4 linked regions of the Homo sapiens genome follow. The protein of the gene in region 1 interacts with the protein of each later gene in a pairwise test. Each region holds a gene or a part of one and is shown in the gene's direction. Other genes may lie near its edges.

The links.
Region 2: the proteins of UTP25 (region 1) and RUFY1 interact in binary tests that used the Homo sapiens proteins (3 or more experiments, as listed by UniProt).
Region 3: the proteins of UTP25 (region 1) and MIPOL1 interact in binary tests that used the Homo sapiens proteins (3 or more experiments, as listed by UniProt).
Region 4: the proteins of UTP25 (region 1) and ZBTB10 interact in binary tests that used the Homo sapiens proteins (3 or more experiments, as listed by UniProt).

The regions. Positions count from the first base shown.
Region 1 is NC_000001.11:209,844,781-209,852,358, forward strand, and holds part of UTP25 (U3 small nucleolar RNA-associated protein 25 homolog), read left to right. Parts: intron 1-6,423; coding exon 6,424-6,667; 3' UTR 6,668-7,578. UniProt on the Homo sapiens protein: Component of the ribosomal small subunit processome for the biogenesis of ribosomes, functions in pre-ribosomal RNA (pre-rRNA) processing. Essential for embryonic development in part through the regulation of p53 pathway.
Region 2 is NC_000005.10:179,595,552-179,603,129, forward strand, and holds part of RUFY1 (RUN and FYVE domain-containing protein 1), read left to right. Parts: intron 1-352; exon of another isoform or gene 353-1,010; coding exon 1,011-1,130; intron 1,131-1,270; exon of another isoform or gene 1,271-1,410; intron 1,411-2,701; exon of another isoform or gene 2,702-2,804; intron 2,805-3,140; coding exon 3,141-3,270; intron 3,271-3,716; exon of another isoform or gene 3,717-3,838; intron 3,839-3,933; exon of another isoform or gene 3,934-4,084; intron 4,085-4,521; exon of another isoform or gene 4,522-4,547; intron 4,548-6,340; coding exon 6,341-6,435; intron 6,436-6,512; exon of another isoform or gene 6,513-6,715; intron 6,716-6,825; exon of another isoform or gene 6,826-7,221; intron 7,222-7,578. UniProt on the Homo sapiens protein: Activating adapter involved in cargo sorting from early/recycling endosomes. Regulates retrieval of proteins from endosomes to the trans-Golgi network through interaction with the dynein-dynactin complex.
Region 3 is NC_000014.9:37,494,738-37,502,315, forward strand, and holds part of MIPOL1 (mirror-image polydactyly gene 1 protein), read left to right. Parts: intron 1-5,170; coding exon 5,171-5,401; intron 5,402-7,578.
Region 4 is NC_000008.11:80,496,226-80,503,803, forward strand, and holds part of ZBTB10 (zinc finger and BTB domain-containing protein 10), read left to right. Parts: intron 1-3,268; coding exon 3,269-4,157; intron 4,158-7,578. UniProt on the Homo sapiens protein: May be involved in transcriptional regulation.

The DNA.
Region 1 (7,578 bases):
AAAAAGCTTTTTTATTTTTTAGATTTTTATTTTCAATTTTCATGGTTGCATAATATGTAAAAGGCTTTTTTTAACCCTTGCCTGTAGAGTTATGTAAATTACATTCTGTTACCTCATCCTGATTTCACAATAATGTCCAGTGGATTTAAGTTCTGACTTTACTGTTTTATTAACTCACAATGGGTGCATTTTCTCAGAGAATCCTAAACAGATACGCCAGAAATCTCCCAAGCTTTGGAGCACATTAGATGATGCACTTTGGCATTGCATTACCTTTTAGTTTATGCTAAAACGATTAGGATGGTGCTCCCCAGATAACGTCCTTGTTCCCAGGATGGGGAGGGAGGCGTCCCAGCAGCTTGCCTAGGCATAGCAAAGCTGGCATGGCATGACCTCTTAGAGAGTTGAGGATTGATTAAATTTGTGTTTCCCAGGCTCCATTCTTGGCTACCCAGAGAAGGCTGCTTGGCCAAAGAGTGTTAATGAATGCCTGCTTGTTGCCCTCATTATTTGCTCTGTTCCAGTAAGTTGTCGTTTCCATTCATGTTGGAAAGTATTTGGGGAAGTTGCACTCATCAGGTCTTAAAAGCTCTTAGCTTTCTATCATCTTGACAAATGAAAGCAAGCCCTTTAAGTGAAGTGGATGGATTGGAAAACTTCCCAGTGTGATTGTCTATGGCAACTGTGAATTAAGCTGGGATGGGAATTAAGCTCTTTAATATCTCAGCAGCTTTTCAAGGACAGGGCATGGAGCCCTTTGTAAGCAGGACAGTCTCCTGTATTACACTGTCTATTTACCAAGCCATGTTGCCCTCAAAGTCACGATAAGGACAAATCTCAGCATATGCCATTTGCTTTATGCCCTGGGCCAGGTTAATTGGTGTTTCTTTTGTAGAAGATGAATGAAAATAATGTGCTTTAGAGTTCTGCAACAGCTAATTATCTCAAGGTTTCCAGCTATAGAATTTTTTGCTCGAGAGATCACCAAGGTGATGATGGATGTTTTGGTGTGCAGTGCCTTTGTGATTTTTTTTTTTTTAATTTGACCTTAGAATAAGTACTTTTTTTTTCTTTTTCTTTTTCTTTTTTTTTTTTTAAGACAGTCTCACTTTGTTGCTCAGGCTGGAGTGCAGTGGTGTGATCTCGGCCCGCTGCAGCGTCTGCCTCTTGGGTTCAAGCAATTCTCGTGACTCAGCCTCCTGAGTAGCTGGGATTACAGAATTGCATCACCACGCCTGGCTGATTTTTGTATTTTTAGTAGACGAGGTTTTGCCATGTTGGCCAGGCTGGTCTTGAACTCCTGGCCTCATGTGATCTGCGCACTTCAGCCTCCCAAGAAGTGTTGGGGTTACAGGCATGAGCCACCGTGCCCGGCCAGAAAATGTACATGTATTTTATATTGTAGTATCTGACTCTGTTTTTATATTCTCTATGACAGCTGGCAATGTTAGGAAGATTAGAATTCATTTTTGAGTTAGCAAAAATTTTTTAACCTGAAGATTTGTTTTATGTGGGGAAGATTAAACTAGCAGAATCTTAGAATTGGATGAACATTTGGTCATGATTGCCCTCCCAGTGATGGGTCACAGCTCTTTTCCAGTGCGTTATCAGTGGGTTTCCACAGCAGGGAGGATCTCAACCAGGAGGCAAGTCAGAAACTGGAGGTGGGATTTGTGGAGTTTGGAAAGGCTGCTGGGAATTTCTGATTACTCCCTTCCCCTACAGGAGAATCCCAGTTCTAGAAGTAGTAGACTTGGTCTTTATGGACCGTAGGAAGGAGCCAGTCTTTCAAGTTCATTGTGGTTGCCTCATTTGTCTTTAACAGTGGCTCGTGAAATAGACATGTGGAAGGTACTGTAAGGGTGATTAGGCTGTGTTTGTAGGAGTCACTGAAAACAAAGCATATATAAGGGAGGAGGAAGGCAGGGTAAGGGGTGCTCAAGCTATGGAGACTTGCCACTAACTGCCCCTTGGAAGAGGCCCTGGCCATGTTCTCTGTTGCCAGGAGATACTCAGTCTCTATTGTGGTTGCATTGGGACTGAGACAGATTTTCATGTGTGTGTGTTTAATATAACACTTAACAGTTTTATTGTTTTGTTTTTCCTGATTGTGAGGGTATTTCACAGTTATTGTAGAGATATTGGAAATTTTAGGTTAAAAATCTCACTGCCCTGATATAAATACTCTTTTTGGTAATTTTTTTCCATCTTTTTTATGTGAAAAATGTGTGCACATGCACACGTGCACACACACACGTGTTTTTTTAAAAAACAATACTAAAATTAGGATCTTTTTTTGTTTTAAGGATTTTTTTTTCCTTTGTCTTAGATGTTTTATGTGCTCATTTAAAAAAATTCAAAGACTAACATTTTGGCCTGTATATTTGTATATTGTGGATTTTTGTGTATATTTTTAAGTTACTATATATAGCTCTACGACATCCTCTCTTCCCCCAGGTTTTTATTTGAAAAGATTTCATTGTGAAAGAAAATTGTTAAGAGACTAACAATAAACATCTGTTTATTTATAAATGCTTTTACCCCAAATTCCACCAGCTGTTCTCATTTTATCACATTTGCACATACCCATCTTCTCTCTATCCCCACTCACATCTCTTATTTTTTCTTCCTGAACCATTTGAAAGTAAAGTAGCGTGAGTCTTCATTGACACTTCACCCCTAAATATTTTAGCATGTAGCTCCTAAAAACAAAAACATTCTTTTATCTAACCATAGCACCATTATCATGCTACCTGATGTTACTACAGTAATATCATCTGATATCTAGTCTATATTCAGATTTTGCTAGTTGTCACCAAAATGACCATTATAGCTCTTTCCCCTCCGGCCAAAAAGGATTCAGTAAGGATCATATATAGCATTTGGTTAACTTACTGCTTTTGTTTCTTTAATCTAGTTTAGTTCTCAATTGGGGAACAATTTTGCTCCCTCAGGGACATTTGGCAATATCTGGAGACATTTTTGGTTATCACAACTGGAGGATTATTCTGGTGGTTCCAGTGGGTTGAGACCAGTGATGCTGTGAAACACCTTCGTTCACAGGACAGCCCCCAACCACAAAGAATTATCTGTCTCAAAATGTCAGCAGTGTTAACACTGAGAAACCCTCATCCAGAATAACTCTCTTGCTTTTTTACTTTTTCATGACATCGACATCTTTTTGAAGAGTCCAATCTGGTTTCCTGCAGTATGTCTCACAGTCTGGATTTATCTAATTGTTCCCTTGTTATTTAGATCAGTGGTTCTCAAACTTTGCCGTACGTTAGAATAGAAGCTTTTAAAAATCCAAATGCCCAGGTCACATCCCAGTACCAATTAAATCGCAGTGTCTGGGATGGGGACCAAACCTAAGTATTAATAAAAAAAATAAAAAAACAACCAGCTAGGTGATTTCAATGTGCAGCAGTTTGGGGATGACTGATTTAGAATAAATATCTTTTGATAAGAATTCTACTTAGGGAATATTACGTACTTTCTACCTCATCTCATCAGAAGGCACGTAATGTCACTTTGTCTCATTCTTGGTGATGCCAAATCACTAAAATCACTTAGTGTGTGTATGTAATTAATAAGTAACGTGTGAGGTAAACATCACATTGTTTTTAATGGCTACATAGTATTACATTGGTTAATTAAGCTAGCTTCCTTTTAGTGGGCATATAGGGGTTTTTTTTCTGTTTTCTGCTGTTGTATATAATAATACGCAAAACATCCATATGCATATGTTTTGATGAAATACTTACCTAGTTATTTTCTTGGGATAGATTTTGAAAGGAAAACTCGTTAGCACAGAGGCTGTACACAGTTAAAAATGTGTCATGCGTTGCCACTTATTTGCTCCTTTGCATCTTTTCCATATCTTCTCCTGAATTCATAGACAAAGTAATTTATGCTCCATTCACCTATTTCTCCAAAGCTCCATAGACTGAATTATTGCTACTGATGTGATAGTCAAAATGATACCTCATTGTTTGGATGTCTTTTCTTGCTTTTTTGTGTCTTCTATAACTTTCAATGGAATGTAGAGGCTGAAGTAAATAATACTTATGTCCGGCCGCACCCCTTCCGTAGGCCACTGGTGTGGGTGCTATCAATCTAGTCAGGATTTGATTGTTACTGTAGATACCTTCCCAACACCACAGACCTCAAATTCCTCCAGCAGACAGTGGGCTTGGTGTAGGGTCTCGGGTGCTGGAGGGTTTTTCTCAGTGTCCTGATTGCTCAGCTGTCACTGAGGCCTTGACACGTGTGCCAGAGGAGGGTCTCACTCCACACTCAGACCCCTCCTCACAGGAGGCCTCTTGTTTCTCCTTGCAAGGCATGAAGTCGGGGGGAGGGGGTTCTCCTGGTCCAGCTCAATTTTTGGCAGGCCCTTTTTATTCCAAGCTTTGGGGGTGAGGTTTTCTCAGGGTTCCTGCCCCGCTACCTCCGTGGCAGCCAGACTCCACCTTTTATCTGTGAGGGATCTTTGTGGTGAAGTGTATACAGCTTCTTCCCTAATCGAACTCTGCTTGTATCAGTGCAGGAACTTGGGCTGAACAGGTTTCTTACCCCTTCCTCTGGGGCAGAATGCTTTTTACTGGGTACAAGTCTTGTGTGGGGGACAAATGGAAGGGTGGGGGTTTACTGCCCTTCCCTTAAGGGCAGACAACTTTTGCTTCTACTCACCCTCCCCCTCAAGTGGTTTGCCTTTGCCTGCCTGCGATTAGGGGTGGGGGACAGGGTGGCTCCTTTCTTCTCCCCCGTGTGCTTCACGTTTTTACCATGGGTTTCACGATAATGGGCCTGGGAAGTAGGTGGGCTTTCATGTCCCTACCACCAGTGGGGTCTCCCTCGGGTCTTCTGCTTTCTCCAGGGCTCCCAGTGCAGGCCTCTGGAACAAGCTCATGAGTGGATGTGAACTAAAGGAGCATCCAGGGATCCCTGGGGTCCTGAAGTCAGGCAAGCCTATTCTTGCCCTTTAAGAATGTGTTAGAAGTGTATCTATTTTCTTACTACCCACTTTTTTGGCAGAGGCCATCTTTCTCCTGTGCTCTGCCTAAGGTGCAGTAGTTCCTGTGTCCCGTTTTTCCTCAGAAGGGCTACTCTTTGGAACTCAGTCCATGGTGAGCTGAAGCTGGCTCACACTGGCTCATGAGACCTGGCTGCACATCTCTGGGTCAGCAGCATGACATTGGTAGCTTGAAACTGACAAATCCTTCAAATTAGCACCCTCCCTTTCTCCCACTGAGGACCAATTATTAAACATACACCAGCTCACCACCTAATTCAGGTTACCTGATTGCTTCATGATGGTAGCTCTTTGGGCTCAAGAAAAGGAACATTTTTGTATAATAGATTATCTGACTTTTTCTTATTGGTATAGGAGCAATATTCTCGAGTTTTATACATTCTAAGCAGAAGTAGAACTCAGTGTTGTTTTTGTTTTGAGAACTAGTGAGGTAGAACAGTTTATTCAAGTTCATTAGCCGTTAGAATTCCTTCTTTATGGAAAGGATGTTGAAAGGTGAACCACATAATAGATCACAGTCATGGTTTGGGAAAGGAAGGTCTCCAGAGAGATCAGGATGAGCTGTGAGGGAAAAAGACAAGGAAAACTTACCTTCTGTGAAAGAAATAAAATCCCCAAGGGAGTCTAACGTCTTCAGTGTATGAGAGAAACTTAACAGGAAAAATCAGAAGCTTGTCAACATATAAAATCTTTTGTTATGGAATCCCACAGGGGAACGGTTGACGTCAGCCTGACTGAACCATACTGCAAGTCAGTCCCTTGGGTGTACACCACCCCCCACCACAGGGCGGCACTGTGCAGCTGGGAAAGAGATGGAAATGCATACGCTGTTGAAACTAATTGCTTTCTCATGATGCCTAGTGGGTCCTTGGGCAGGGTTTTGTAAATGGATGAACTTGGGACGTCTGCCATGGAGTTAACATGTATCCAGAGTGGCAAGAAAAGACTAATGGGAGTGTATTTACAATCTGTACAACTTATTTTATGTACTGGGTCTGACCTTGTCTCCATTCTTTTTTGCCTGATTATAATAAGGCTAATGTTCCATTTTAAGTGCCTGCTTTTTAAGTTTTCTGTGACAGATTTTTAAATCCTGGTCTACTATTCTTTCCCATGATACCTCAGCCTACCCAGTGTAGGATCAAGAAATGTGTATTTATTTTATCATTTTCTTAAGCCAAATATTAGGAATTCGAATATGTTGTCATAAAAAGAATTCAAATATGTTGCCACCTCAAGTTAGAATAACTTTTGTTCTGTTACTTGTGCCACTGTTTTTCTCCATTAGCAGGAAGCAACAAGCATGAACTATGCCTCTGTACAACTCCTAGGTAGTTTTTCTAGAACTTGTTTCTCAAGTTGACATAGCTCTTTCTTTCCAATTCTGACAGGTATACAATAAAAGGCATCAGGAACCTGATTTTCTATGAACTGCCGACATATCCACACTTTTACAGTGAAATCTGTAATATGCTGAGAGCCACCAACAGAGGAGAAGAGGCCACGTGGACCTGCACTGTTCTCTACTCCAAATATGATGCCCAGAGGTTAGCTGCCGTGGTTGGTGTGGAGCGGGCGGCACAGATGCTACAGTCCAACAAGAATGTCCACCTCTTCATTACTGGAGAAAAATGAAATTTTGTTGGGCAGGAAGTGGTATTTGGCATGATACATAATGTTTGATTCTATGCCATTTGGACCCAATTCTGATTACTTACAGAAGAAGGACTGATACAAAGAAAGTGCATGAGGCAATGTCAGTATTATCTGACATCTTTCTTTTCAGGTCATGTGTCCCTGAAAAGTTAAATGTAAACCAGATTTTGGTAAATCCCATCTTTCAGAAGTGAAGAGGGGGCTAGAAGGACTCTGAGAAGTTGGTAGAAGAAAACTCCCACTTGTGAATATTTTTGTGAGACATAAATTCTTTTATTACGATTTACCTCTAATTTATTACACTTAGTAAATTCTTCCAGATTTTTCTATTTGTTTGACACTTCCTTAAAGTAAGGAATACACATTGCTTGCGAGAACTGGTTATGAGACATTGGAATACTTCTTGCTGCTACATGTCATCTTAATTTTGGATGGCATGGGTTTTGTAAAACTTATTCTGCCCCAGCCAAACTTTTTTGAAACCTTAAATAGTCTACCTTAATTCAGCCTAGAAGAGTACATTGATTTACTGATCTTTTTTCATATTCATAATACTAAATGTTTTAGTTTTGTTCAAATATATGCTTAAAATCACGTTATTTAAAAAACACATCAGCTCTGTCTCAAGAAGTAATTTTGTTGAAACTCCATGTTAAAATATCCATCTTCAACAGTAGTGTCTTCATAATAACTAGTCATTTTTTCAGTCATAAACAGATGCAAATAAAAAGGAAATTACACTTTTAAAAACATTTTTATTTTGAAACATTCTCAAACAGAAAAATTCCAAGTACAGAACCTGAACCATTTGAGAGTGAGTTGCCAACCCAGTGGGCCTATCACCTTTAAATACTTTAGTATATATTTCCTGTAAACAATTAAGGGTATTG
Region 2 (7,578 bases), on another chromosome or scaffold:
TGTTTTTTTTTTTTTTTGAGCCAGAGTTTCGCTCTCATTGCCCAGGCTAGAGTGCAATGGTGCGATCTCAGCTCACCGCAATCTCTACCTCCCAGGTTCAAGCAATTCTCCTGCCTCAGCCTCCCAAGTAGCTGGGATTACAGGTGCCTGCCACCATGCCCGGCTAATTTTGTATTTTTGTAGAGATGGGGTTTCTCCATATTGATCAGGCTGGTCTCGAACTCCCGACCTCAGGTGATCTGCCCACCTAGGCCTCCCAAAGTGCTGGGATTATAGGCATGAGCCACCACACCTGGCCAGCTACCGTTTCTTTAATGACAATACCAAGTGCTGATGAGGACACGGAGCTAATGGATCTCTCATACTTTATTGGTAGGAATGCAAAATGGTGCAACCACTCAGGAAAACAGTTTCTCAAGAAGCTAAACGTCCTCTTACCATATGATCCAAATAGAAATGAAACTTATGTCTACACCAAAACTAGTACATATGTTTATAGCAGCTCCGTTCATAACTGCCAAAAGCTAGAAGCAATCCCAATGTTCTGCATTGGGTGATGGATAAACAAAGTGGTACGTCTGTGCGGTGAAGTATGACTCAGCCGTAGAAAGGAATGAACCACTGCCCTTTCAGGACGTTCAGAGAGGAAACAAAAGGCATGAACCATTGATACACATGGAAACTTGGATTGATCTCCAAGACATTATTCTGAGAAAAAGTCAGTCTCAAGGTTATATAATGTATAATTACATTGAGATTACATTCTCAAAAAGCCAAAGCCATATTGTTGCAGGACAGATGAGTGGTTGCCAGGGGCTGAGGTGGGGAGTTTTGGGAGTGGTGGGACCGTCCTGTATTCTGATTGTGGTGGAGCTGAATCTCCACGTGTTAAAACTCACAAGAGTTAATTTTACTGTATGGTAATTTTAAAAATGAATTTCAGCCAGCAAAAGTCATCCTTTCCTTACAAAGATTTGCTTCATTTGCACTCTTGCTGGTGTCGCATCCAGGTTGCAGCACTCGGAGCGGGCGAGGCAGGGGGCTGAGGAGCGGAGCCACAAGCTGCAGCAGGAGCTGGGCGGGAGGATCGGCGCCCTGCAGCTGCAGCTCTCCCAGCTGCACGAGCAATGGTAGGGGCCCTGCAGGGAGCCTGGGCTGGGGTGTGGCTCAGGAGGGACTGGGAAGAACTGGGGACAGGTGGTATCCTGCTTCAGCACGAACGGGAGGAGGGGGGGCGGGGGGGCAGGTGGTATCCTGCTTCACCACTCACCCCTGCAGGGTTCGTATGTTATCCCTAGGGAGCTCCCTCCCCACAGGGCTCCTCACGTGGTCCAGCTCGCCTCCAGAAGATCTGGCCACTCTCAAACCATGGTACCAGGTCACAGCCTGTATCACCCTTAACCACCCTTTCTAAAAAGAAACAGCTTTGTCAGTGTTGAACAGAAAGTCACCTTTCACCTAGCCTTTGCTGATGCAAGCTTCATATAATTTTGTGCACAGTTCATCTACAGATTTTTTATTTTTTAAGTCTCACTCTGTCATCCAGGCTGGAGTGCAGTGGTGCAGTCTCAGCTCACTGCAACCCCCACCTCCTGGGCTCAAGCGATTCTTGTGCCTCAGCCTCCTGAGTAGCTGGGACTACAGGTGTACATCAACACACCCGGCTAATTTTTGTGTTTGTGTTTTGTTTTGTTTTTTTTTTGAGACCGAGTCTCACTCTCTTGCCCAGGCTGGAGTGCGGTGGCGCGATCTCGGCTCACTGCAACCTCTGCCTCCCGGGTTCACGCCATTCTCCTGCCTCAGCCTCCCGAGCAGCTGGGACTACAGGCATCAGCCACCACACCTGGCTAATTTTTTGTATTTTTAGTAGAGACGGGGTTTCACTGTGTTAACCCAGGATGGTCTCGATCTCCTCACCTCGTGATCCTCCCATCTCGGCCTCCCAAAGTGCTGGGATTACAGGCGTGAGCCACTGCGCCCAGCCTAATTTTTGTATTTTTATTAGAGACAGGGTTTTGCCATGTTGGCCAGGCTGGTCTCAATCTTCTGGCCTCAAGTGATCCACCCGTCTCGGCCTCCCAGAATGCTAGGATTACAAGTGTGAACCACCGTGCCTGGCCTATAGATTTTTTGAGATAATATATATGCCAAGTTAAAAGCCTGATGTTGAGAGAAGAGAGAAGAGACATCTTTATTCCCACAAAGAGAGAGCAGACTCCAGGCGGTCCAGCAGTGCCCCCAGGGCCACTCAGCTGGTAAAGGGCAGAGTCAGCTTCAGGCTGAGGCTCCCTCCTGGCCTTCTCCCTCCAGGATCCTTCATTGTCAGTCTGGCTGTAGGTTGTAGAAAGCAGAATGAGGCCGGGCGCGGTGGCTCACGCCCATAATCCCAGCACTTTTGGGAGGCCGAGGCAGGGAGATCACGAGGTCAGGAGTTCAAGACCAGCCTGGCCAACATGGTGAAACGTCATCTCTACTAAAAATACAAAAAATTAGCTGGGCGTGGTGGCGTGTGCCTGTAATCCCAGCTACTAGGGAGGCTGAGGCAGGAGACTAGCTTGAACCCAGGAGGCAGAGGTTGCAGTGAGCCAAGATTGTGCCACTGCACTCCAGCCTGGGCGACAGAGCGAGACTCCGTCTCAAAAAAAAACAAAAAGCAGAATGAATTGGCCAGTGAGGTGGCTCATGCCTGTAATCTCTGCACCTTGGGAAGCTGTGGCGGGAGGATCACTTGAGCCCAGGAGGTCGAGGCTGCAGTGAGCTGAGGTTGCGCCACTGCACTCCAGCTGGGGTGACAGAGCTAGACCCTGTCTCAAAAAAAGAAAAGAACGAATTTTGAGCTTCCTTTCCTCAGGTCTCCATGTCGGGAGGGTTCTGCTTATGTGGTCTAAGTGTTCTAGAGCTCTCTTCCTTCTCCCCTGCGTAAGTGTCAAGTGTGTGCCTGCAGGCTTTTCTCTCCCTGGTTCCTGCTCTTTCTTGTGGAAGGGCAGGTGACCCTGGAGGAGAGGGAAGCGTTGCCGAAGGCTTTAGATGCTCAAGAGGCAATTCAGAGACTTCCCTGTTTCCTGGGCGGTGAATTGGGTTGTGAATCTTCCGTGAAAGTCTCCCACTGAGACTAACTCAAGTTCATTTTGGGAAAACAGCTCAAGCCTGGAGAAAGAATTGAAATCAGAAAAAGAGCAAAGACAGGCTCTTCAGCGCGAATTACAGCACGAGAAAGACACTTCCTCTCTACTCAGGATGGAGCTGCAACAAGTGGAAGGACTGAAAAAGGTGAGGTGGGCCATCCCGGGAGAGGAGAGCCTCTGGCAGCCTCCAGAAACCCCTAACATGCTCCGGGCAGGCTCCTCTCCCCGCACCCTTTGTGTGGGGGCCAGGCGGCTCCAGGGTGTGGGGAGGCTGTTAGGGAGCTCCTGTTTTAGGAGCATAAGACAAAGACAAATCATAAACCACTAAGCCTGCTGGCAGCTCAGATAGAGGCAAGTGCCATGAAGAGAATAAAGCAGAACAGTGTCCTCACCCGTGTGCAAGGGGCCTGGGGAGGGAGCGACCGGTGAGCAGAGGCTCCAGTGAGTTATGCCCTGCAAAGCACCTCTTGGGTGGAGACTGCAGGAGCAGACAGCAGTGTGAGGAGCAAAGAGGCGGCCTCAGGCGGCAGGCAGGAGGAAGCCCTTCATGGGCCCTGGGAGCCAGGGGAAGGAACGTGGGTTTTATTTTACCAGAGTGGGCAGCTGGTGGAGGGACAGGATCCGTTCTGTTTGCGGATGGTCATTGGCTCCTGTGTGGAGAGTGGGTGGTAGGCTCGCAGGAGAGGAAGCTGGGAGGAACCAGTAAACATCTCCTACCACATGCCAGCCTCACCTCAGCCACTGTGCCCAGGGTCGGGTCATCCCTGGGAAGCAGACCGACCCCAGCCCTCCACTTCCCCTACATCACCTCAGTTCCATGGAGGACCCTCTCACTTGGAGGCATGGCCTGGATGCTGTGGGCTTCAGAGGGCGAGAGAAGTGGGGTCCAGCAGGCCTTCACTGTCTGGCTGTGGAACTGGACCTCCCAGGAAACTCCGAGGCCGTGTGGAACATTTGCCCTAATGTAAAATCATCGGCTGTTTTCCCAGAGGGGAGGAGGCTCTGCGATCCTGGATGGAGCTGACTGCAGCCTGGGGCGCTCTGGGGGGCTCCTCCCACGTGGGGATGGCGTGCCCTCTTCTCAGGCCCCTGCGCTGCCGAGCGCTGCAGGAAAACTGAGCCCAAAGCAGACCTCCCCTCGGCACCTGCCCCGGAGGGGCCTTCAGGGCCAGGGTGGCTTCTGGACCTGGATTTTGTTGTGTTGAACGTGGTAATGGACACACTGCACGATTCGAGCGAGTCAGGAAAGGCCCTTTTGATTTCCATTGGAAAGTGCCTGGAGTTGTTGGGGAAGGGAGAGCTTCCTCAAGAGCCAGATCAGGCTTGGAGAGTGGAAGGGAGGAAGTGGAGGGCAGAAGAGGACTTTCAGAAAGTCCCGCCTCATCACGGGGCATACCTCCTTTATTCTGCTTCAGAATGCTTCTGTCAAAAGATTCGAATTACACAATTACAGCCCGCCCCAACAATAGGAACAAAACAATGTCTAATAACCCCAGTTAAGCCACAGCTTTGTGCTTTGCAAGCCTGTGCATGGAAGCAGAAGCTACGGCACAGGGTGTGCAGAGAGCCACCCCGCCACTCGGGCCCGAGCTCCACCGCTGCTCCCAGTGGTCCCAGAAACCCCAGTTACTTTCTGGGTCTCCATCCTGGCCTTAACAGACTGGCTCAAGGTGCACTGGCCCCAGGTGTCAGTGCCGTTGCCCCCTGGGGAACTCCCTCCGTGCAGGGCTCCTCACATGGTCTAGCCAGCCTCCAAGTGGTCTAGCCATGAAATGAGGTCCCAGGTCACCCCCTTCATCATCCTTGACCAGTGCTTTCCAAAAAAGCAGCTTTTTCAGAATTGAACAGGAAACCACCTTTCAAACTAGTCTTTGCTGATGCAAGGTTCGTGTGATTTTGTGTACAGTTCTTCTATAGATTTTTTGAGATAGCAATCTGTTTTGTAAAATGTTTATCTTTTAAAAAGAAGCTCAAATAGGCAAAGCCTCATTTGTCCTATGATGGTAACTTTTTTTTTTTTTTTTTTTTTTTTTTTTTTGAGACGGAGTCTTGCTCTGTTGCCCAGGCTGGAGTGCAGTGGTGTGATCTCGGCTCACTGCAACCTCCGCCTCCCCAGTTCAAGCGATTCTCCTGCCTCAGCCTCCCGAGTAGTTGGGATTGCAGGCATGTGCCACCATGCCCTGCTAATTTTTGTATTTTTAACTAAAGGAGGGGTTTTGCCATGTTGGCCAGGCTGGTCTTGAATGCCTGACCTCAGGTGATCCGCCCACCTCAGCCTCCCAGTGCTGGGATTACAGGTGTGAGCCACTGCGCCCAGCTGAGGGTAACTATTTTTAATGTGGCTGATGAATGTAACTATCCTGTCCCATGTCTCTGTCCCCAGCTGCAGAGCCCTCGTCGAGTGCTTGCCTTTTAGCTGCCCAGTGTCAAGAGTAAGCTAGCAAGAAATAATCTTGAATGACATTAATACAGGACTGCATTTTGCTCTTTTTTTTGGTTTTGTTTTGTTTGAGATGGAGTCTTGCTCTGTCGCCCAGGCTGGAGTACAGTAGCACCATCTCGGCTCACTGCAACCTCCGCCTCCCGGGTTCAAGCAGTTCTCTTGCCTCAGCCTCCCAAGTAGCTGGGATTACAGGTGCCTGCCACCACACCCAGCTAATTTCTGTATTTTTAGTGGAGACAGGGTTGCACCATGTTGGCCGGGTTGGCCTCAAACTCCTGACCTCAGGTGATCCACCTGTCTTGGCCTCCCAAAGTGCTGGAAGTATAGGCATAAGCCACTGTGCCTGGCCACCTTTTGCTCTTGAAAAACATTCTGATCTGCTTGTTGCTCTGGTTGCTGAATCTTTTTTTTTTTTTTAAAGGCCAGTGCAGTGGCTCACGCCTGTAATCCCAGCACTTTGGGAGGCCGAGGCGGGCAGATCACGAGGTCAGGAGTTTGAGACCATCCTGGCCAACATGGTGAAACCCCGTCTCTACTGAAAATACAAAAATTAGCAGGGCATGGTGGCGGGCACCTGTAGTCCCAGCTACTTGGGAGGCTGAGGCAGGAGAATCGCTTGAACCCAGGAGGCGGAGGTTGCAGTGAGCCAAGATCGTGCCACTGCACTCCAGCCTGGCAACAGAGCAAGACCCTGTCTCAAAAAAAAAAAAAAAAAAAAAAAAAAGGACCGTGTAATCCTCTGTCCAGCATCTGGTTGGTTTGTTCATTTTAGGAGTTGCGGGAGCTTCAGGACGAGAAGGCAGAGCTGCAGAAGATCTGCGAGGAGCAGGAACAAGCCCTCCAGGAAATGGGCCTGCACCTCAGCCAGTAAGAACCCCACTCCCCTTGTCTGCCACTGCAGGCACACCAGGCTACCCACCACATCCCTCAGGCCCCAAACCTACCTCCTTTTGGCGAACGGAGGGTGGGCCATTTAGGAGCTCAGTCCGCCGTTCACGGATGAGCTCTCAGGAAGCCCGGCCTCAGAGGGGCCCAGCACTGATCTCTGCTACCCACATGGGGTGTCAGCGAGCTCTTAGTTAATTCAGGAAGCACGTTCATTCCTAGTGACCAGGACACTCCTATTCCTTAGCTTCATATCCAGGGCCTGAGGGAACAGATGGGCAATGAGAGGATCGCTTGGTCAGCCTACAGTCAGGCCAGAGGGAGCAGGGCTGGTTTGGGAACGGAAGCCTGGCACAGTAGAGGTGCACTCACCCGCCTTGCACAGCACAGCCCCCTTCCTTTCGGGGAACTGGCCACTGCATCCGCCAGAGTCTGTCTGTCTCTGCTGCAGGTGCTGATGGGGTGCAGACCCTGGTAGTTCTGCTCCCCTCTGACTTGACAGCTCTCCTCCTTGGTGTCCCAGTCTAGATAGGTTGCTGTGGACGCCTGGGCCTTGGGGTGGATCACACTGCGGACTGTGGAACTTGCCCATTTGTGTGATGATTCTGCATTTTCAACATAGTGGGTAGCTTTTCTCCTCGAGTCAGGGCGCATGGTTGCAAGTAACAGAAATCCAACTCAAAGTGGCTTAAGCAAAAGAAGCCATCAGGAATCGGTCTCTGTCTCCTACCTCTGCTATCCTGTCTGCCTCACAGGTGGGTCTGGACCCTGCAGGGGCAAAACAGCACTCAGCAAGGCCATCTATCAGAGGAACAAACTCCCTCTTCTTTGTGCATAGCTGCCAGGATCACCCGAGATTGACCCTGCTCCCGAGTACCCATGCCTGACATAAGCACCATGACCAAGGAGATGGGGCTCACGACCTCAGCACAGCCTGGTCTGCACCAGAAATTTGTAGAGTCTAGTACTATTAAGAAAATAGGCCGGGTGCGGTGGCTCACGCCTGTAATCTCAGCACTTTGGGAGACTGAGGTGAGCAGATCACCTGAGGTCAGGAGTTCGAGACCAGCCTGGCCAACATAGTGAAGCCCCGTCTCTACTAAAAATACAAAAATTAGCCAGGCA
Region 3 (7,578 bases), on another chromosome or scaffold:
GTTAACATATAGCATTTATTATTTTTAAAGACTGTTTTCTGAATGCAAGGACATGCTATTGCAGGTTTTTAAGTGACATTGTCTACTTCCATCTTTTTAAAAAGATCATGTCCATTGCTTGGGAAAGCCTTGATGGTAATTAACAGGTTTCCAAGGTATTTTGAATGCTAAGCAGCTTTTGAACTTGCGGGTACAATCCAAACATGTCCATCTGAGAGAAAAATCAAAATCAGGTATAAATTTGCCCCCTAAAAATTAAATGATAGAAGACTAGAAAGTGAGGAGTGATTAGGAAATTAAATCAGGATGCTCATAATTTTCATAATGGTGAGACTTTTAAAACTTAATCATTGATTCTTTTTTTTTCTAGGTAATTTTTCTTTTTTTTTTTTTTAATATTTTTTTTATTATACTTTAAGTTTTAGGGTACATGGCACATTGTGCAGGTTAGTTACATATGTATACATGTGCCATGCTGGTGCGCTGCACCCACTAACTCGTCATCTAGCATTAGGTATATCTCCCAATGCTATCCCTCCCCCCTCCCCCCACCCCACCACAGTCCCCAGAGTGTGATGTTCCCCTTCCTGTGTCCATGTGATCTCATTGTTCAATTCCCACCTATGAGTGAGACTATGCGGTGTTTGGTTTTTTGTTCTTGCGATAGTTTACTGAGAATGATGATTTCCAATTTCATCCATGTCCCTACAAAGGACATGAACTCATCCTTTTTTATGGCTGCATAGTATCCCATGGTGTATATGTGCCACATTTTCTTAATCCAGTCTATCATTGTTGGACATTTGGGTTGGTTCCAAGTCTTTGCTATTGTGAATAGTGCCACAATAAACATACGTGTGCATGTGTCTTTATAGCAGCATGATTTATAGTCCTTTGGGTATATACCCAGTAATGGGATGGCTGGGTCAAATGGTATTTCTAGTTCTAGATCCCTGAGGAATCGCCACACTGTCTTCCACAATGGTTGAACTAGTTTACAGTCCCACCAACAGTGTAAAAGTGTTCCTATTTCTCCACATCCTCTCCAGCACCTGTTTCCTAACTTTTTAATGATTGCCATTCTAACTGGTGTGAGATGGTATCTCATTGTGGTTTTGATTTGCATTTCTCTGATGGCCAGTGATGATGAGCATTTTTTCATGTGTTTTTTGGCTGCATAAATGTCTTCTTTTGAGAAGTGTCTGTTCATGTCCTTCGCCCACTTTTTGATGGGGTTGTTTGTTTTTTTCTTGTAAATTTGTTTGAGTTCATTGTAGATTCTGGATATTAGCCCTTTGTCAGATGAGTAGGTTGTGAAAATTTTATCCCATTTTGTAGGTTGCCTGTTCACTCTGATGGTAGTTTCTTTTGCTGTGCAGAAGCTCTTTAATTAGGTATTGTTGGGACGTATTTCAAAATAATAAGAGCTATCTATGACAAACCCACAGCCAATATCATACTGAATGGGCAAAAACTGGAAGCATTCCCTTTGAAAACTGGCACAAGACAGGGATGCCCTCTCTCACCACTCCTATTCAACATAGTGTTGGAAGTTCTGGCCAGGGCAATTAGGCAGAAGAAGGAAATAAAGGGTATTCAATTAGGAAAAGAGGAAGTCAAATTGTCCCTGTTTGCAGACGACATGATTGTATATCTAGAAAACCCCATTGTCTCAGCCCAAAACCTCCTTAAGCTGATAAGCAACTTCAGCAAAGTCTCAGGATACAAAATCAATGTACAAAAATCACAAGCATTCTTATACACCAATAACAGACAAACAGAGAGCCAAATCATGAGTGAACTCCCATTCACAATTGCTTCAAAGAGAATAAAATACCTAGGAATCCAACTTACAAGGGATGTGAAGGACCTCTTCAAGGAGAACTACAAACCACTGCTCAATGAAATAAAAGAGGATACAAACAAATGGAAGAACATTCCATGCTCATGGGTAGGAATAATCAATATCGTGAAAATGGCCATACTGCCCAAGGTAATTTACAGATTCAATGCCATCCCCATCAAGCTACCAATGACTTTCTTCACAGAATTGGAAAAAACTACTTTAAAGTTCGTATGGAACCAAAAAAGAGTCTGCATCGCCAAGTCAATCCTAAGCCAAAAGAACAAAGCTGGAGGCATCACACTACCTGACTTCAAACTATACTACAAGGCTACAGTAACCAAAACAGCATGGTACTGGTACCAAAACAGAGATATAGATCAATGGAACAGAACAGAGCCCTCAGAAATAACACCGCATAGATCTGATCTTTGACAAACCTGAGAAAAACAGGCAATGGGGAAAGGATTCCCTATTTAATAAATGGTGCTGGGAAAACTGGCTAGCCATATGTAGAAAGCTGAAACTGGATCCCTTCCTTACACCTTATACAAAAATCAATTCAAGATGGATTAAAGACTTAAACGGTAGACCTAAAACCATAAAAACCCTAGAAGAAAACCTAGGCATCACCATTCAGGACATAGGCATGGGCAAGGACTTCATGTCTAAAACACCAAAAGCAATGGCAACAAAAGACAAAATTGACAAATGGGATCTAATCATTGATTCTTAATATGTAATTGGTTACGGTATACTGGTTACTGCTTTAGGCATGATAGGCAAATGCTGAATTCCCAAACGAAGCTGTCTCACTGAGTTTTAAATTAGGCCATATATGTAAAGTTAAAATATAAGGGAATGGAGTAGGCTAAGATTTTTTAAACAGTTTACAAAAAGCATTGCCATTAAAGAAACAATGATAAATTGAACTTTATTTAAATTGAGAACTTACCTTCATCAAAAGACAGCATTAAGAGTCAGGCATGGTGGCATATGCCCATAGTCCGAGCTACTCAGCAGGCTGAGGCAGGAGGACTGTTTGAGCCCAGGAGTTCAAGGTCAGCCTGGAAAACATAGTGAGAACTTGTCTCAACCAATCAATAATATACACATACATAAGACAATACGAAGAGAATGAAACATCACTGCATCCATATTACAATAACTAAAGTTAAAAGCATTTGACAGTGCCATTCTGAGGGAGGATATAAAGCAATTGAAACTCATATTTTGCTGATGGGAGTACAAATTGGTACAACTAATTTGGAAGACTATTAGCAGCATCTAAATCTAAATCAGCATCTATTATCATTGTACTAAATCTGAAAATAATGCATACCCTTTGGAGAAATTCTACTTTACACATGAATACCTAGGTCCATCAAAAGACATGTACAGGAATATCCATAGCAACAACTGTGGACAGTTAAATAAGTTACGGCATATGTATATAACAGAATATTTTATAGCAATAAAAAGCAATGAATTATATGCAACAGCAAGGTGAACTTCACTTACCAATTGTTGAGGAAAATAAGCCAGACAAAAAGTTTAAAAATAGGCAATTTACATTTTGATAAAGGTTGGATTAGTACTTACCTTTTGGGGAGGGGAAAAAATGGGAGGGAACACTGGGGGGTCTTCTAGATTTCTGCATTTGTTCTGTATTTTGTTCTTCACATTTTTTCAAGCTGAATACTTTGTATATATGCACTTTGTGTAATTTAAAACGTAATTAACAATTAAAATATAACTAATGTTTTAAATATAAAGAACATAAACAAGTACCTTTTTTAAGGTTTAGCTTTTAGTTTGTTTCTTCTTTTCTTTCTTTCTTTCTTGCATCTTTCATGGAGATAAAGAGGGTGAGCTGAAGAAAATTGGAACTTGGAACAGACAAGAATGCAGAAAGTGAGAGGACACAGAAAAAATAGTAAAATGGGCAAGAGACAGCCTTTAAGCATATGGGTTGGTAGAAAAATCTGAGAAGAAATGAAGTAGGGATAGTTAGATTAATAACAATGTGCAAACCATGAAAAAAGGTATTTTTTGCACTCTACAAATGTGGCACTACACACTATTCTAATTTTCTGTGTAGTAACCAGTTGACCAGCGCTTAGTAACAGTCCGTATTCTTAGGGGTTTGAATCCTGAAGTGGTTTCATTTGGTATGCTGACTGTCCTTGTTTCATATCCATCCTAGTTCTATGGGACGCCTTCTCCAAAATAAGCATACTGTAAAGGCTTATAGATAACTTAAACTAAAAGAGGAAATTTATAATTACTTTGAACAGTTTTAAAGAAAGTATCAGGCTAGATATTAGGACAATGCCAAAGTTCACTAACTAGCTTTTTGCAGGTTTAATAATGATATTGCTTTCCTTCCCATTATCAATCTATATTATATAGTTAAGTTGTTTTACTTCAAATGTCTCCAATCGACATTTCCTTTGTATGCATATACTGAAATGATATTTAATAAAAAAGAACATCTCCTGTGTGGAGTTTAAATTTCTCTTATTAAATATTTATATTTTCAAAATGTCTTTATTTAATTGAGTGAGGTGCTTGGTGCCATTTCAAAATAACCTCAGGTGGTAGGTGTAATGACATATCAAAGATTTGACCTTTAGCATTTTAGGATTCTATTTGTCTGCATTTTCTTCTGCATTCATTTAGTCTTAATTTATATGCTATTTCTCTGTATGACTTAATGAGTAGATGTATTCGTTAAGAGATTCATTAGCCAAAAAAAAATATACACATGTATATATGAATACATTTTATTTCTGTGCAATCTGACTAGTGATTTTAAATTCATTTATATCTCAACTGTGACAAGTAGAAGATCAAGTAGAAAATGCTATGTAGAAGGCTGGTCAGTGTTTGCATAAACCTCATCCATTCTCATTAAGTGCTTGGCAGAATAGACCCTCGATCTCCTAAACCAATGCCCATTCTCTTCTCACTTCTTTCAGCTTATTACATTCTTTTATTTGCCTAGAGATACTTTATTTTCCAGTTCTCTGCTATTCCTTTTAAAGAAAATTGAATGTAATATTTACACTGATATAATTAAATTAACATCTTGCAGCATCTTTTTGTATGCTTTGGTAGCATAATCATTTGTCTGGGTAGCTTTCAGCCTAGAAGCAGAGAAATTATCAATTATAATGTTGTGACATAAAAATTATTTTCATTTGCTCATTTAAGTATTTATTGATTTTTAGAACTAGAGATTCTAAATGGAGGTTTTTGTTAAATAGATCATAGATCACTCAGTTTACATTACTTATCTTTAAATTTTTTTTAATATTTTCTCAGTTTACACAAATCTTTATCTCAAGAAGAAAATCTGAAGGATCAGTTTAACTATACCCTTAGTACATATGAAGAAGCTTTAAAAAACAGAGAGAACATTGTTTCCATCACTCAACAACAAAATGAGGAACTGGCTACTCAACTGCAACAAGCTCTGACAGAGCGAGCAAATATGGAATTACAACTTCAACATGCCAGAGAGGCCTCCCAAGTGGCCAATGAAAAAGTTCAAAAGTAAGTTAAATGATCTTGTAATAATACTTCAAACACATGAAACAAAACAAAACACTTTCTTTTGGGAACTAAACAATATGTAGTTATTGATCATGTTAATAGTTTAGAACAAAAGTAGAATTAACCCAGTGAACTTTTTTAGATTGGATACCATATGCCATATTTGGGGTCAAAAAAGTCATTTTCTTGGGAACCATTGTTACCCTGTAGGGCAAACCATTTTTATTTAATAACTGATCATCAGTTCATGGAGGCCATACTATTTAAATCATTTCACAGTCACAAGTTAATAGGCAAAGTTATTAGCAAGGGGAAGAGGCAGTCAAGTTACCACCTGAACTAATTTAGCTTTACAATAATCCTGCTTGAGTTGAGATCATCTGTGACATTGCAACCTGAGACTTGTAGGTGCATAAAAACCAGTAGGGTGAAATTAATTTTCTTGTGTTGTTCTTCTGAAGTATTCAATACTGCTTTTCACAGTGCATAATTATATATGTTTATTTTGAATGATCTTTGCATTTTTATTAGAATTTAAATAAAGCTGCATAATCTGTCAGTCCTTTTGACAGCTAGCAAAATGTTAACAAACAGCTTACCAGGCAAAGAAGTCACTTGTTAATTTAATGGACTTGAACATTGTAGCAGAATTTTCTGAGACACCTTTAATGTAATAGAACCACTGTAATAGAATACATAGAACACATGTAATAGAATATATTTTAACCTTCTTTATGTATTGTTAACAGCACTACAGCATTCACATATCTAGTCACCTTCAATTTCAAAGATATACCTTTTTCCTTAACAATTTTTATGTCAGTTTTACACTGTGAAGCAGTGCTCACATCAAGGTTTCTTACTTCCCACTACTTCTTATTTGAAAATGTCATCTTGACCATTTCCTCAATATCCCTGAAGTTATATTTTGATTAATAGCCAAAGTTATGTAAGTCAGTAGTTTTAAATTAGACCATTTTAAAACAGTTTAGAAATTGTGCATTTTAATCTTTACTAGCCATGTACCTTGAAACTTTTGATTTATGTAGGTATTATATATATTTGTAAGTTTAAAGATGGGGTTTATATTCAGTCAGAAACTATATGCAGTTATTCACAATGTACGTTAATATTCTAAGAACACTATGATGTATAGGTAGATCTCATTTCATTATAAATCACAATCAGTAACTTTTGACAGGATCTGATTTGGCTCTGTTTGCTTAAAGTCTACAAATACATACAAATTTCAAATTTTTCTTTATATATAATCCATTAATTTCTATACATGACCAAAATTCCCTAAAACAGTGGTTCCCACAGACCAATTCTATTTTCAAAAAATCTTCGGATGTGTTATCAACCTTTTATTTTTTAGATCTCATCAACTATCATCATCATTTCATTTAAAAAAACAATTTTTATACACCAAGAAGTAGAAATAATATCATCTCAGATAATGTTTTAAATTAAATAACTTTACTGAATGGCCAAGATAACCAAATAGGAACAGCTCTAGTCTGCAGCTCCCAGTGTTGATCGACACAGAAGATGGGTGATTTCTGTATTTCCACCTGAGATACCTGGTTCATCTCGTTGGGACTGGTTGGACAGTGCATGCAGCCCACCGAGGGTGAGCCAAAGCAGGGCAGGGTGTCACCTCACCTGGGAAGCACAAGGTGTCGGGGGATTTCTTTTTCCTAGCCAAGGGAAGCCGTGACAGACTGTACCTGGAAAATCGGTACACTCCCACCCAAATACTGTGCTTTTCCCACAGTCTTACCAACCTGCAGACCAGGAGATTCTCTCTCATGCCTGGCTTGGTGGGTCCCACGCCCATGGAGCATGGCTCACTGCTAGCATGGCAGTCTGAGATCCACCTGTGAGGCTGCAGCCTGGCAGGGGGAGGGGCGTCTGCCATTGCTGAGGCTTGAAGGTAAACAGAGTGGCTGGGCAGCTCAAACTGGGTGGAGCCCACCGCAGCTCAGCAAGGCCTACTGCCTCTATGGACTCCATCTCTGAGGGCAGGACATAGCTGAACAAAAGGCAGCAGACAACTTCTGCAGACTTAAACGTCCCTGTCTGACAGCTCTGAAGAGGGAAGTGGTTATCTCAGCATGGCATTTGAGCTCTGAGAAGGGACAGACTGCCTCCTCAAGTGGGTCCCTGACACCCCT
Region 4 (7,578 bases), on another chromosome or scaffold:
AAATGATATTGGCAGTTTATTTTAGTGCTTTGTGCTTATTTAGCTCTTTAACCCAAATCCTCTAATAATGATCTCCTTAGAGAGTACACATACTCTTGGAAATGATTCATTTTTTTTGAAGGTCATATTTATTTATGTGGTTTCTTTTTTTTTTTTTTTTGAAGGGCATATTTAATAGCTGCTGCAAACATATGGAATAGTGCTTTAATCAGTGGTGAACAAGAAATTGCTGTTGTTGGTTATAAAAACAAGGGACATTAATGTTCTTGTTCTTGTACCATAGTAATGAGAAAAAAAAATAGTGGTTGAATGGTGTTTAATTTGTACAGTTTGTGTCAAAGTAGAATGGGCAGATATTTTGGTGGATAGGCTTTTGTCTTAGTTATAAAAATTAGGACATTTGGTATGATAAAGGCAGAGAATCTTAACAATTGGCACTGGCCCAGAAAATTCAGGGTGCAGTGACCATAGCGTGTTATGACTGCTACAGTAGGCATAGCCACCTCCTGAAGTGTTTTCAACTGCTTGATATACGGACTTTAGGCAGTTCTTGACTTGTACATGCTAATTCACTGCTTCCACAAACAGTTCATAGATATATGCTGCCAGATATTTAGTGTTGAAAACTTTTGCTTCTTCCAAATATTCATACAATATTCATGCTTTTACTATAATATATAGTAGATTGAACACTGAACCAAATGAGCTTGGGTTCAGGTACAGCTTGTGTAACAAAGCTTTTAGTGTTGGGCCTGTATCAAAGCAAGATTCTTCCCCCTTATTTGTAATTTCTATAGAGAGCATAGGCAAATTAATAAAATTTACTCAGTCTCAAAAGGGAAACCAAGTAAACAGAATGATGCTTTTGTGGAAAGTTACACTGTCCAAGTAATTGTTACAGGTGTTTTTAGTATCATTCTTTACATTTTCACACAAGTCCTAAATTGTTCATTCCTCTTTGCTACATGATACGAAATTTCACAACATACTGGTTTTTTTTTTCTTTTAACCAAATATTTGCAGTAATCCAATACAACATACTGGTTTAATACAAGAGCTTAGGTTAAATAAGTCTCATTATTACCTTATTTCCTTTCTCCAGTTCCCCAAAAACAAAAATAAGGGTATTACTCATGAATGGACTTGTTTTGATTCCTCTATCCGTGACTTAACAGTTTTTGCAGAATTGGATCTTTTGGTAGGAGGAGAAAATAGCTAATTTAGAGCATGGAACATTATTATATGGTGGGGGGGGGCATGGGTGGGAGTTTTTTGGTATAAGGGCTTTATGCACTTGGCACAAGAAGGGTATGGGAAGGTTGCCAAGGATCAGTCAAAAATGAGGAAATTTCTCTACTTTGTGTGCTTCATTCTGTAGTGATCATATACTCCAGATTCGTAGAGTTTTTCATACTATTCCATTTTCACAGTGAAACAGTTGAAGTGTGTCCTGGAATCTTTTTTTTTTTTTTTTTTTTTTTGAGACAGGTCTCAGTCTGTTGCCCAGACTGGAGTGCAGTGGCATGATCTTGGCTCACCACAACCTCTGCCTCAGCCTCCCAAGTAGCTGACATTACAGGCGTGCCCCACTACTGCCCAGCTAATGTTTGTATTTTTAGTAGAGACGGGGTTTCACCACATTGGCCAGGCTGGTCTTGAACTCCTGACCTCAAATGATCTACCCACCTCAGCCTTTCAGTGCTGGGATTACAGGCGTGAGCCACCATGCCTGGCCATGTCCTGGAATATTATTTGGGTTCTTTCAGTTGACTTCTCATACCTGGGAGCAGCACTATAATTTTTAGATGGACTGGGTTAGTTTCAGAGAATTGAGATGACAGCGTCTGTGGCCTCCTGTGACATGCACCCAAGTAAAGCTAAAATTTTTATGATTTAGCCATGCACATGATTGCATTAAGTCATGTTTCGTGATTGTTTAGGGATCCACCATTTAGGATATTGTTTGTGAGACTACTTTTGCAGTCTCGTCATCTCTACACCACTAACTCTCTTCTAAGCATGTCAGTACTTTGAGCCTGTTTACACTCTAGTGTTTATTTCTCCATGTTTTTCTCCATGCTCGTAAAATCATAGATCCATACATATGTGTATATATTTTATTATTTTATAGAAATGGTCTATGTTTAACTTAATATTTTGTGCCAAAGAATTGACACTTGAATAAGGTCAGTATTTTCAGTTATCTTTTCTACTAGAAATGGTCTAAGCAATTTTTCTCTTGGGAAAGAGATGATTACTTCATTTGTTTAGCAAAGTGTGGCAGGCACTAATCAAAGTGCTGGAGGGATATTCAGCTCTGCCTTGAGGGAGCTTACCCACCTAGTCACTGTATGAGGAAAGTCATAAAGTTTTAACTAACATTTGTAATACTGACTTATCGTTTAAGGAAAAGGCTCAGGGATAGTGACTTTCCAAGGACACGCAGTTAATGGCTGATACAGACAGCATTCTGAATTCTGGATCATACTTTTATTCTTACGATTATATCACATAATTTTAATTGTGACGCCAAGTAGAACTATAATGAATACCTGTATGATAAGAAGCAAAATTTATAAACATTTAGAATTTTGAATTCAGGAATTTTAATTTACCTTACAGTTTATAGTACTTATGACCCTAAAGAGATAAAGCGTTTTGAAAGTTGATAGGAAATTATATAACTAGATATTCCTATAGTTGAAGCAAATTTTCCCCTTAGGGTCTTACCTTTATCTCTAGTTAGATTTAATTAACTTCATTGACCTAAACTGTTTGATTTTAATGTTTGCCAAGACTTAAAATTTACCTTTTTATTAATGGTAGATAGGGTGATATGCCTAGCATAAAATATAACTTGGATATTTTAAGTTCAATCGGGGGAGACTGTTGCTTTTCTATAGAGATAAAGCAAACATTTAATTCCTATAAGAGAAAGTTTCTTTTCTTAAGAAAATAATTGCTCTTTTTAATTTTAATTTTAAGAAATTCTCAATTCATGTTCTTAGCTTATATTTGAAACATATAACATGATGAATGTTATTTTTAAAATGAAACCCTGCTGATCTTCAGTCAGATGTGTTTGATTTTTTTCTTTTTTAATAATAGCAGTGGGTTGCACCACCACTGTTCACTCCATTTCTTGATTACTCACAAATTAATATATTTGATTATCGCTTTTTAAAAACTTGATAATTGTTTTCCTTGGTTTGGGAGTTTTTAAAAAAGTCAATAAAGTTTAATATTAATGTTTTTTATCCAATTACAGGAGTCAGAAATACCATCAGAGGAGGGGTACTGTGACTTTAATAGTAGGCCAAATGAGAACTCTTATTGCTATCAACTTCTGCGACAACTAAATGAACAGAGAAAGAAAGGTATTCTTTGTGATGTCAGCATTGTGGTAAGCGGAAAAATCTTCAAAGCTCATAAGAACATCCTGGTTGCAGGCAGCCGTTTCTTTAAGACTTTATATTGCTTTTCAAACAAAGAAAGCCCTAACCAAAACAATACTACCCACTTAGATATTGCTGCAGTTCAAGGTTTTTCAGTCATCTTGGACTTCTTGTATTCTGGTAACCTGGTGCTCACAAGCCAAAATGCCATTGAAGTTATGACCGTGGCCAGCTATCTTCAAATGAGTGAAGTTGTTCAAACTTGCCGAAATTTCATTAAAGATGCCTTAAATATAAGCATTAAATCAGAAGCTCCAGAGTCTGTAGTTGTGGACTATAATAATAGAAAACCAGTTAATAGAGATGGTCTGTCTTCATCACGGGATCAAAAAATTGCCAGTTTTTGGGCAACACGGAATCTTACCAATTTGGCAAGTAATGTAAAGATTGAAAATGATGGTTGTAATGTCGACGAGGGCCAAATAGAAAACTACCAAATGAATGACAGTAGTTGGGTCCAGGATGGATCTCCTGAAATGGCTGAAAATGAATCTGAAGGTCAAACAAAAGTGTTTATTTGGAATAATATGGGCTCCCAGGGAATTCAAGAGACTGGCAAAACAAGGAGGAAAAACCAAACTACAAAAAGATTTATTTATAATATTCCACCTAATAATGAAACGAATTTAGAAGATTGCTCAGTAATGCAGCCACCTGTTGCCTATCCAGAAGAAAATACACTACTCATCAAGGAAGAACCAGGTAAATATTATCTATACAAGGATACTTCCTTGTTCATCCTAATTCTAGTTGGATATAATCTTGAAGTATATTTTTAATTGAATTATTTTAGTTATAAAGTAATACTAAAGTTGTTTACAAAAGAAGGGGGAACGTCATTCAAATGCATAACATATTTGGTATATTTTCTTTGTCTTTTTTCAACACATATATATGTGGGTTTATCAAAAGATGTATTAATAGCCAGGTATTGCATATATTGTCAAGGAACGTGGACTCTGCTGCATGTACGGGTCTTTGACTTTCCTCATTTTTAGCCTCTGTGCTCACTATTTTATACCCAGTGTTGGGAAAGATAGAATCTTTAGTTGTAATATATAATCACTGTCGTTTCAGAGACCCCCTTAACCTTTTTTATTTTATTTTTGGCTGTTAAAACATATTTAAGTGTTTCAAAGAATTTTGCCAATTATGAGATTATGGTATTCTAGTTTGTTTAGGGCTACTGTTCTTCTGTTATTTTTTGTTTATTTATTTTTTTGAGTCGGAGTCTCACTCTATAGCCCAGGCTGGAGTCTCACTGCAAACTCCGCCTCCCAGGTTCAAACGATTCTCCTGCCTCAGCCTCCTGAGTAGCTGGGACTGCAGGTGCGTGCCACCACACCCAGCTAATTTTGTATTTTTAGTAGAGATGGGGTTTCACCATGTTGTCCAGGCTGGTATGGAACCCCTGACCTCAGGTGATCTGCTTGCCTCGGCCTCCCAAAGTGCTGGGATTACAGACATGAGCCACCACACCTGGCCTAGAGCAGGTACTGTTCTGTTCTCACCATAGAAGCTATTTTGTTTGTCCACTGTCACCTGATTTTCATTCACCTTTGCATTCATTGCAAAGCCTCTGAGGCCTTTCTCTTCAATATATTTCTCTCCAAAAGTTCCGTAGGAATCTTAGAGAATCACATTTACAGTGGGAATTTTTTTAAAACGAGAAGACCATTGTTAAGTCTTTAGTTTAATCTGGCTGTGCATATCTTTATTTGAAGAAGCTCAGTGGGTTTGAGGTTTCCTATGCATGCCTGAGGCTTGTCCACCACTGTCATACATTATTTAATGCTTGTTTTTTTCACTTCAAAGCACTGTAACTGTTCAGTGTCTGATTTATACGATGGTGGTCATCTGAGGATGGAGTATTTTCTGTTAAAGGAATCACTGTTTTTAGTTGCCAGAGGGCAAAATGCCATAGTAATCCTGTGAAATGTTCCTCTGGCTTTTTAGATTTGGGTTAGCTTTCAGTGATAGGAATTTTGTGTATGTATGTGTGTGTGTGTGTGTGAAATTTTTACTGTGTGAAAAATCAAGTGTGTATATATAACGAATACTATATATCTTTTTCCTTGTACTTTATATCAAGTTTTAACAATAAAATCCCTGAGACAATTTAGTTAAATGAAGTATTAAGGGTAGATAGACTCCTTAGCTAGCACTTTGTTTTGTCTTAATGTAGAAGACCTTGACAGATTTCTCATTAGAGCTACGTTGTCTTTGTGCTGTATGGATTATTTCTGTTTAACAGTATGGTGGGAACCCTGTAGTGTTTTTAAATACACACACTTTTCCTTAAAGGAATAAATAACATCTTTTGGGTGTAGCGGTTGTTTGATGGTAACTAGTCAGCAGTAACCTCATTTAAAAAATTAATGCCACATATAATTGGAGTGATTTAAAGAAAAGCATTAATAATGAACCACAATGCATACTTTCAAAGATGACATTACTAGCAATTTTTATCAAGTATCTCCTAGCCATGGTTGTGTTAATGGACTAGTTCTATTATAAATTAATTGGTGGTCTAATATGCTTTATCTCTTACATCTGTTTTGTTTGTTTGTTTTTAAACGGAGTCTCACTCTGTTGCCCAGGCTGGAGTGCAGTGGCACAGTCTTGGTTCACTGCAACCACTGCCTCCTGGGTTCAAGCGATTCTCCTACCTCAGCCTCCCAAGTAGCTGGGATTACAGGCACATGCCACCACACCTGGCTAATTTTTTTATTATTACTAGAGACGGGGGTCTCACCATGTTGGCCAAGCTGGTCTCGAACTCGTGACCTCAAGTCCACCCACCTTGGCCTCCCAACATGTTGGGATTACATGGGTGAGCCACCGTGCCCAGCCGTCTCTTAAAAAGGATTATTTTCATTTCATTGATACCAGTTTGGTATCCGAACCTTGCTTAACTCACAAATTTGGTTCTATCCATGCCACCAGTGTTATTTGGTGGAAAAAATAAATGGGTCTCAAAAGAGCATTATGGTTAGGGTATATAATATGATATAGAACCAAGGACTGGTAAATTTTTACTGTAAAGGGCTAAAACAGTAAAAAAAAAAAAGACTTTCACCTTTGTTGGTCATAAAAGTCAGCTCATCAACTCTGCCACTTGTGACATGAAAGCAGTCATTTGTACTATGTAAACAAATGAAGGTAGGTGTGTTCCAGTAAAACTTGCCAACCCTTCGTATATAGCAGTGGTTCTTAATCATGGGTATGCACGTTGGTATCACTTGGGAGCATTACATGCCGTAAAGGGTCTCTCTTCTGTGGATTCCAATTTAATTGGTATGGAATGTGGTTTGGATGTGGAATTTTTTTTAAAGTTCTACAGGTAATTTTATGAGTTAAGGCTGAGATCAGCAAATATTACTATATTGGAAAGAGCCTAAATTGAGTCAAACATAATGAATTTAAAATTTAAAAATAAGCTGTGCCACCTACCCCCTGTAGTCCATGATCAAATTAAGCTCTTGTCCTCAGTTTCCTCATTAAAATATTGTGTTGATTTTATAGAATTATTATGAAAATGAAGTGACAAATATGAAATAACTCTTGGTCATGGCAATCCTCCTTAAACTTGGAAAAGACTATTGAGGTTATTCATATCAGTTTTCCGGTGCTGTGTACTTTCTACCAAATGCCAGATAGATGGTCTTAGCCTCAGCTTGATTTTTTGACTGCTTGTAAAGACTTCCCTAAGCAGCTTCCAGTGTAGGATGACTGATTATTAGGTAGTCATTTTAAATGTAGCCAAAATTTGCTTCTCTATAACTTCCTAATTCTGTCGTTGGGAATAGTGTAATTTATTATTTATTTATTTATTTATTTATTTATGTTTTTTGAGAGACAGAGTCTCCCTGTGTCACCAAGGCTGGAGTGCAGTTGCATGATTTTGGCTCACTGAAACCTCCGCCTCCCAGATTCAAGCGTTCTCCTGCCTCAGCTTCCCAGGTAGCTGGGACTACTGGCGTGCACCACTGCACCCAGCTAATTTTTGTATTTTGTATTTTTAGTAGAGGGTTTCACTATATGTTGGCCAGGCTGGTCTCAAAAACTCCTGACCACAAGTGATCTGCCCACTTTGGCCTCCCAAAGTGCTGGGAATACAGGC